Linked DNA regions of Homo sapiens. The protein of the gene in region 1 purifies or fractionates together with the protein of each later gene. This does not show direct contact. Each region holds a gene or a part of one and is shown in the gene's direction. Other genes may lie near its edges. The genes, in order: MTPAP and LIN28B.

Region 1 (3,819 bases):
TTCTCTTCTTTTTTTTTTTTTTTTTTTTTGTTTTTGTTTTTTGAGACAGAGTCTCACTGTATTGCCCAGGCTGGAGTGCAGTGGCATGATCTTGGCTCACTGCAGCCTCCGCCTCCTGGGTTCAAGTGATTCTCCTGCCTCAGCCTCCTAAGTAGCTGGGATTACAGGCATGCGCCACAACACCTGGCTAGTTTTGTATTTTTAGTAGAGATGGGATTTCACCATGTTGGTCAGGCCTGTCTTGAACTCCTGACCTCAGGTGTTCCACCTGCCTCGGCCTCCCAAAATGCTTGGATTACAGTTATCTTTTTTATTTCTGTGAGATACTATCTTATGTGGCAGAGCCCTTTTGTTGGATCTATAGGAAGATAATGGAAACTTTTTAGTGTTTTAAATAAATAATGAATAATCCTTTGTTCCTCCTCTTTTTCCTCATCTCATACTTGGGAAACATTAATTAATATATTTAATTTAAGGGTTCTAATTTTGTGTGTTCCTGTTTCTACCATAATAGGTATGCTTTTAGCAAGTCTCAGAAATAAACGTATCTTCATCTTACTTTCTGATTTTTTAATCATTTTTTTCCCTTTCATGCTCTACCTTGTTAGGTAAAAGTTATATTATTTTAAAAATACTTTTGTCGGTTGAGTTAGTCCAGATACCTCTTCTCTGAGCAATGACATCATCATCCATAGATGATAAGCCCTAAGTTATTTCTCCAAAGAACACTCATAAAACTTACAACAGGGAAAAAAAAAACAAAAAATGAGAAGTACACACACCCACCATGCATACATACTCAATCCCCTGAGAAAGAAATTCTTTGCTATGTAAAGTTAATGCTGGTGTTTTATGTGTTTTGACATTTTATTGAGTTAACTGTTTTTATATTTAAGCCCTTCATGTACTTACTCATTTTTTCTTCTGTGTAATAATCTATAGGGAAGGGAGCAAAACAAACCTGATTCTTCTCCTCTGTACATTCAGAATCCATTTGAAACTTCTCTCAACATAAGCAAAAATGTAAGTCAAAGCCAGCTGCAAAAATTTGTAGATTTGGCCCGAGAAAGTGCCTGGATTTTACAACAGGAAGATACAGATCGACCTTCCATATCAAGTAATCGGCCCTGGGGGCTGGTATCCCTATTGCTACCATCTGCTCCAAACAGAAAGTCCTTTACCAAGAAGAAAAGCAATAAGTTTGCAATTGAAACAGTCAAAAACTTGCTAGAATCTTTAAAAGGTAACAGAACAGAAAATTTCACAAAAACCAGTGGGAAGAGAACAATTAGTACTCAGACATGATGGCTGCTACATTGTGTAAAGAACTGGGCTTAGCCTATCAAATGGTCTGTGGACTTACTTGGAAAAACTGATTTGAAACTTTCACAGATCTCAGCTTTCATCTGATGTCACTTTTCATGATCTTCTCATTGGCCCCCTTAACCTGGTCTGAAGTTCTGGGATGTTTTCAGTTTGATCAGTCTGATACTCAGTGGCACTTTATTAAAACATCAGCTGTGGAGTGTGGCGGTGCACACCTGTAGTCCCAGCTGCTCAGGAGGCTGAGGCAGGAGGATCTCTTGAGCCCAGGATTTTGAATCCATCGTGGACAACATAGCAAGATTCCATCTCTAAAAAAAATGAAAATAAACATAAGCCACAAGGAATGGGTGAAAGATTATTGTAATGTGCTTTAACTAAATAGGTAAATATACTAAACAAATGCTAAAACTCAGTTTTAGGATGAAACCATTGTTGATATCCACATCAGTCCCTGTTTAGAAAACATTTAAAATGACTTTTAGTTATGTACAGTACGTTGGCAATGAATACATTAAGCTTCAAAATTTGGTAGTGCTCTCGAATATGTATATTTGTATTTTTCAAGCGAAGTTCTCTTATTCACATATAAATTAAAGTGGGTTGGTACTGATATCAAAAAATGTTTATGTTTTTAGAACAGACATTTCAGTCACTGCATTCTTAGGTATTCCAAACCAAATATGATGACATCAATAGATTGCATTTTAAAAATATTGTTTGATTTTTCTATTTTCAAAAATAAAATTCTGTTTCTAACTAAAATGTGATATTCCCAGTATTCCTTCACATCTCTTTTGAGAACTCCCCTCTTCCTGCAGGAAAGAGACATATTTGTCTCTCAGTATATGCAGAAAATTGGTTCCAGGACCATCCACGTACACCCAGATCTGCACACACTGAACTCCTTCAGTCCTGTGGAGCCCGTGCATGGGAGAATTCCACCTTGCACATAAGCAGATTTTGCATCCTGTGAAAGTACTGTATTTTCTTTCTTTCTTTTTTTTTTTTTTTTTTTTTTGAGACAGAGTCTCGCTCTGTCGCCCAGGCTAGAGTGCAGTGGCGCAATCTCGGCTCACTGCAAGCTCTGCCTCCCAGGTTCACGCCATTCTCCTGCCTCAGCCTCTCTGAGTAGCTGGGACTATAGGTGCCCGCCACCACGCCCGGACAATTTTTTTGTATTTTTAGTAGAGACAGGGTTTCACCATGGTCTCGATCTCCCGACCTCGTGATCAGCCCACCTCAACCTCCCAAAGTGCTGGGATTACAAGCGTGAGCCACCATGCCTGGCCGAGAATACTGTATTTTCAATCCAAGTTTGGTTGGAAAAAATCTGTGTGTAAATGGACTTCGCAGTTGAAACCCATGTTGTTCAATGGGCAACTGTATATTGAAATTTAATTTCCATTACATTCTCTGTGGAGCAACTTTTTTGCTTTGTTTCGTTTTGTTTCTGAGACGGAGTTTTGCTCTTGTTGCCCAGGCTGGGGTGCAATGGCACAATCTCAGCTCACTGCAACCTCCGCCTCCCGGATTCAAGTGATTCTCCTGCCTCAGCTGGGATTACAGGCGCCCACCACCAAGCCCAGCTAATTTTTGTAGTTTTAGTAGGGACAGGGTTTCACCATGTTGGCCAGGCTGATCTCGAACTCCTGACCTCAGGTGATCGCCCACCTTGGCCTTCCAAAGTGTTGGAATTACAGGCGTGAGCCACTGCACCTGGCTTCTGTGGAGTAACTTTCTATTTAAGAAGCAAGTAAGGCCTGGGCATAGCGGCACATGCCTGTAGTCCCAGGTACTTGGGAGGCCGAGGCACAAGGACTGCTTGAACCTGGGAGGCAGAGGCTGCAGTGAGCTGAGATCACAGCACTGTACTCCATCCTGGGCGACAGTGAGACTCTCTCAAAGGAAAAGAAGCAAGTAGTATAGTGTTTAAAAACAGACTTGAGCGAGACTGGCTCAATGACAAGTTACTCAGTCTCTTGGGGCCCCTGTTTGATCTGTAAAATGGGGATCATGATCAGATCAATGTGAGGATTAAGCGAGGGATGTAGGAAAATGCTAGGTCAGTGCATTTTCCTGGCGCGAAGTAAATGTTACTTCTCTTTAACTGTTGCCTTTCGGTGTTTGTGGTATGTAATTACCTTTTTTGCTACTCAAAATTCAGATTTAGAGTTTGTAGTACTTTAAAAATTTTTCCCATTTAAATTTTATGTCAGAAATTATAATGGGTTCTGCATGGGATATTTTAAGAAACTCAGCATTGTTATGAAGCAAATGAATTCTGTGTCCTTGTGTCTGTGCTATTGGATTGCACATTTGACACCAACAAATATCAGTGTTCTGTACAGGCGATGTCTTTAAAAGCCATTTTTCATTTGTTCTTTATTTTGTTGGGCTAGAAATCCATATTGATTTAAAAAGCTTAAAAAGCATAAACCACTTAAGGGTTTCTAAATGAAATTTTTTTTTCTGTTCACAGATATTTAGTCAGAT
Region 2 (4,343 bases), on another chromosome or scaffold:
GTTTAAGAAAATGGGGGGTGGGGTAGGCAAGTCTGGTGGTGCATTTTAAGGTTTTAAAATAGCGATATTTTATATTTTAAAGGAAATAAAGTCTTTTTAGTTAATCTATAATATTTATTATAGTATTCGATAAGGGCAGAAATACTGTTGCCAGCATCTTGTAATCAATCGTTTGAACCAGTTTGAAAGGTAAAGGGGGTAGGCATTTTGAAACTGGGGGTCAGTTGAGGAAGGACAGTAGGAGCTTCATCCGTTGTTACATTTTCGTTTATTCAACTCTTCTAGCCATTGGTAGTGGACTTTTAAAATGTCAGGGTACAAGTCAATATGATATGAATTTACCTTTTTTCTCCCACTTGTCCTTCTTTCTCCACCCCACCCCCTGCCCGCGCCGGCTTTTTTTCTCTCCCACCTCTTTCTTTGACTCTGCTGCCGCCTATCCTGGCGGCTCCTCTTCACCTCCCCTGCCTGGCGATCCCCTCCCCCTCCTGCCCTATGTCCTCCAGCTCTTGGGGAACAATCGCCACTGATTGAGGTTCACTCTATGTTAGGCTGGAAAACTGGGCTGTTATTTAGGAAGTCATTAATCACATCTCCTCCCCCGGAAAGAGATGGCAGAGAAACCTGTGAAGTACAATTCCTTACCAACCCCCTCTAAAATTTTCCAAAATGGTTTACCTAAACACAATTTGACTATATGAAGGTGAAAACGATTTTTCTAGTAGGATTTTATTTTAAATTTGAAAAAATTTCGGGCATAATCAGGTAATTTATGTGCCTCTGCCTTTTCCTAGGTGTATGTTTTCATTATCTAAAGTTTCATGGGGATGTAATTAGGTTTAATTAGATCTTTTATAAATTATATATTTTCCTCTAAGAATTGAATTAAATATGAAATTAGCGTTCCAAGCAGGTTTACTGCCATGGAATAGCTGAATTCTTAAGGGGAAAAAAAGCGTTAACATCGGTTGTTTTATTTAAACGACCCCCTCCCATGATTTTAGTCAGGCTTGTGTGTAAGGCACGCGTGTGCACATATATGACTGCCTTTTTTTCTAAATCTATGATTCACAAGGTCCCTCCATTGTGTTTAAGTAGAAGCACGAAATCAGCATTCTGATTTATCCTAAAGAAGCGTTCCAAATTGTCTTTAAGATAACATGTTTGAGTTTTTCGTGTTCATTCATAAATTATTTTGATGTCAGCATAGATGAAATGGCGATTGGTTATCTCTTCCTCTTGCCAGCCCCTTAAGGATACGAGGTGAAATTAGTAGCAAGAAAGCATGTAATTGACAAAGTCACGTGTGCTCAGGGGGCCAGAAACTGGAGAGAGGAGAGAAAAAAATCAAAAGAAGGAAAGCACATTAGACCATGCGAGCTAAATTTGTGATCGCACAAAATCAAGATGTTAGATTGATGCAGAAGATCACTCCGTTCCAAAGGGAAAGTTTTCATCTCACGAGTTTGGAGCTGAGGGCCCGTGGGGCAACATGGCCGAAGGTTAATTTTCTTTTCTATTGTTTTACTGTGAATTTCTTTCTTCTTTTCTCCTCCCCCTCCCCCTCTCCCACCCTTCTTAGACCGTCCCCCCCTTCCCCTTTTACCCCAATACTGGGCATTACCTCCCAACCCCCCATCACGCAGTGGGGCTTTCTGCAAACCTATTGTTATAGATCTCCAAAAATGTTTTGTACCGCCCACACTGATTCACAACTTGAAAAGCTTTCAGGGGGCTATTGTTTGAATTGTGTGAGTGTGATTAAGCGCAGTTTCAGTTAGTGATTCCAAGAAAACTTTTATACACCTGCCCCCTCCCCCATTCCACCCCAACTTTAATTGAAAGTTATGGGGGGGAGGGGAATGCACATTGCAAATAACGCTGGATTCAGTGCTGCCCCATGTGCCTTAACTAGTAGCTCTAAACCATCTTCACGATTTCTCTTTCCTCCTCGTGCCCGCCGGAGAGAATAGTTTCGCTGAAAATTTCTCTTTGTCAATGGGATCAGTATTAAATCAGCAATATACAAGTAAAGTATCGCATGCTGTAATGTAAAATGTGGCTGAAAAATGGAGTTAAATGAATAAGTACACGTATGTATAGAAACGTGGAAGTTGGTGTGATCGATAGAACAGTGTGGCTTCCCCCTCCCCCGCTTTCCTTTTAACCCTTTTCATTTTAAGTATTTTCTGTGGAGAAAAGAAATCAAACCATTAAAAAAAATTTTTTTTTTCTGTTACCCTTCCCCCCCAACCCCAGGCAGGCAATTTTTTTTTTTTAATCTTTGAATGCACATTGAATGGGAATACAGACTGACTTTTTTGTCCTGTTCCTTCTCAGGCGGGGCTAGCAAAGGTGGTGGAGAAGAGCCCGGGAAGCTGCCGGAGCCGGCAGAGGAGGAATCCCAGGTTTTGCGCGGAACTGGCCACTGTAAGTGGTTCAATGTGCGCATGGGATTTGGATTCATCTCCATGATAAACCGAGAGGGAAGCCCCTTGGATATTCCAGTCGATGTATTTGTACACCAAGTAAGCCAAACTTTTTTGTCCCCCTCTTCATCTTTTTCCATGTGGAGGAGCTGATCGGTAGTTATGCCAATAGACGTACGATAAGATGTCCTTCGGTATATTGAAAGACAAAATCTTCCCTGAAATCACTAGGTAGTCCAACGTTTAGGGTACGTGTATGGGCCTTTTCCTGGGTTTTCTGTCTAAAGAGAAAAGAAAATATTTGAAATTTCACTATATATATTAAGGTTGACGTTATTAGCATTTCCCCCTGCTTCATTCTACAGCGAAATAGTGTTCTTGTTGTTTCCGGTATTACCTATACAATATACTTTGTCGCCTGTATCTGGTGAATGGGTAGAAAAATGAAGAAACATGATCATTTTAAGGTTGAAAAAACAAAGCGAAACAGTTTGCTGTGGAAAGAAATGTATAGATTGCCTTATTTTAGACACCTCTAGTCACAGTAGCTCCCTTTATTATTTCATCGCTGCCTGTCCTGTAATCATTTTGTAGATTCAGATCAAAATAATTTGACTTCATAGTAAAATAAAATAGAACACTGTTGGCCTAATGTGGTTGTAAAGAAATGCGTGCAATAGAGGGATGCTTGATAAACATTTTAGAAATGTGCTCCGTGTAGTCATTGGTCTACGTATACTGTCTCTTTAAGAGACTGAACTCAAAAAAACATGTGGCCAGAGGCGGCTCTTGCTTGTGTGTTTAAAATGTGCTGGTCTGCTACTTGGGGTAAATTTCCACCTTTGCTCGTATTGTGTTGTAATTTTTAAAGATGTTTTAATACCAAACAGAATTTCATTGCTTCCCATTTTCAAAATTTTACCCAGGAAATAATGAATTAATACTTCTGCCTTTACTCCTCTCTACTGCTTAATCCCTTTATAGTAAAAAAGATACTTTTATGGAAGCCGGTTGTTTCCTCAAAAAAAGGTAAATATAAATTTTCTGTAGTTAGAAATAAAGAGGTTTACGACTAAAGAGGTTTATTTTGGCATGATAATCTAAGTTAAAAAGAATTGAATGAAAGGCTGTTAATACTACAGATTGACTGACAGATACATGGGTGAAATATTTGGTATATTTGCTTGAAAAGTATATATTTGATACTGTGTTGCATGTTCCTAGTAATATTTATACCCCCTTCCCTAAGGAATATCATCTTCAAATTAAATATATAAACAATAGAAACATATGAAACCATTCTGTTTTGATCTGTTGTCCTGTGGTGCTTGGTAGCTTCCTGACCTTGCTGTGTGGTGTGTGTTTTCCTTTCCTGAAGGCCTGGCCATCATTATTGGCTGTTTATATGTGGAAGGATCAGCATAATCTGTGAATTGAAACAGGGTTTAAGTACACAAATACAAGTCCACATACAGACTACTGGATTTTATGCTTCCTATTTTATAGTGCAAAATGAAGCTACATTTTCTGTTTTTTCCCCTCTAAGACTGGATGACAAAAATCATAGACAAATCCATTTTCTCTCAGGCTCTTTCTTCCACCTTTGAACCTTCTTTAGGTTGTTAAATTGTTTTTTATGATCTCATAAATTTGTTTTATAGATGAATGAAAAAAATAACCCTTCTTTGTCTGGTCACGCCTTTTTATAATTTGATTTTCTATGTTTACCTTCTAAAATATTCATCAAATGTTAAGATATTTTATTAACCAATGTTAATGTTTAGAACAACAAGACATTTGTGTTTATACTATTTAATGATTATATATTGATAAACATTCCTCTATTCACTGAATTAAAACATGTAGCTGCTGAAGTTTTTTAAATATATAGCTGTTTCTATACTATAAACATTG

What was found.
Region 2: the proteins of MTPAP (region 1) and LIN28B purify together in Homo sapiens (co-immunoprecipitation; one large-scale study listed by IntAct). This does not show direct contact.

What each region holds. Positions count from the first base shown.
Region 1 is NC_000010.11:30,311,095-30,314,913, reverse strand, and holds part of MTPAP (poly(A) RNA polymerase, mitochondrial precursor), read left to right. Parts: intron 1-942; coding exon 943-1,305; 3' UTR 1,306-3,819. UniProt on the Homo sapiens protein: Polymerase that creates the 3' poly(A) tail of mitochondrial transcripts. Can use all four nucleotides, but has higher activity with ATP and UTP (in vitro). Plays a role in replication-dependent histone mRNA degradation.
Region 2 is NC_000006.12:104,955,759-104,960,101, forward strand, and holds the start of LIN28B (protein lin-28 homolog B), read left to right. Parts: upstream 1-1,348; 5' UTR 1,349-1,492; coding exon 1,493-1,502; intron 1,503-2,340; coding exon 2,341-2,528; intron 2,529-4,343. UniProt on the Homo sapiens protein: Suppressor of microRNA (miRNA) biogenesis, including that of let-7 and possibly of miR107, miR-143 and miR-200c.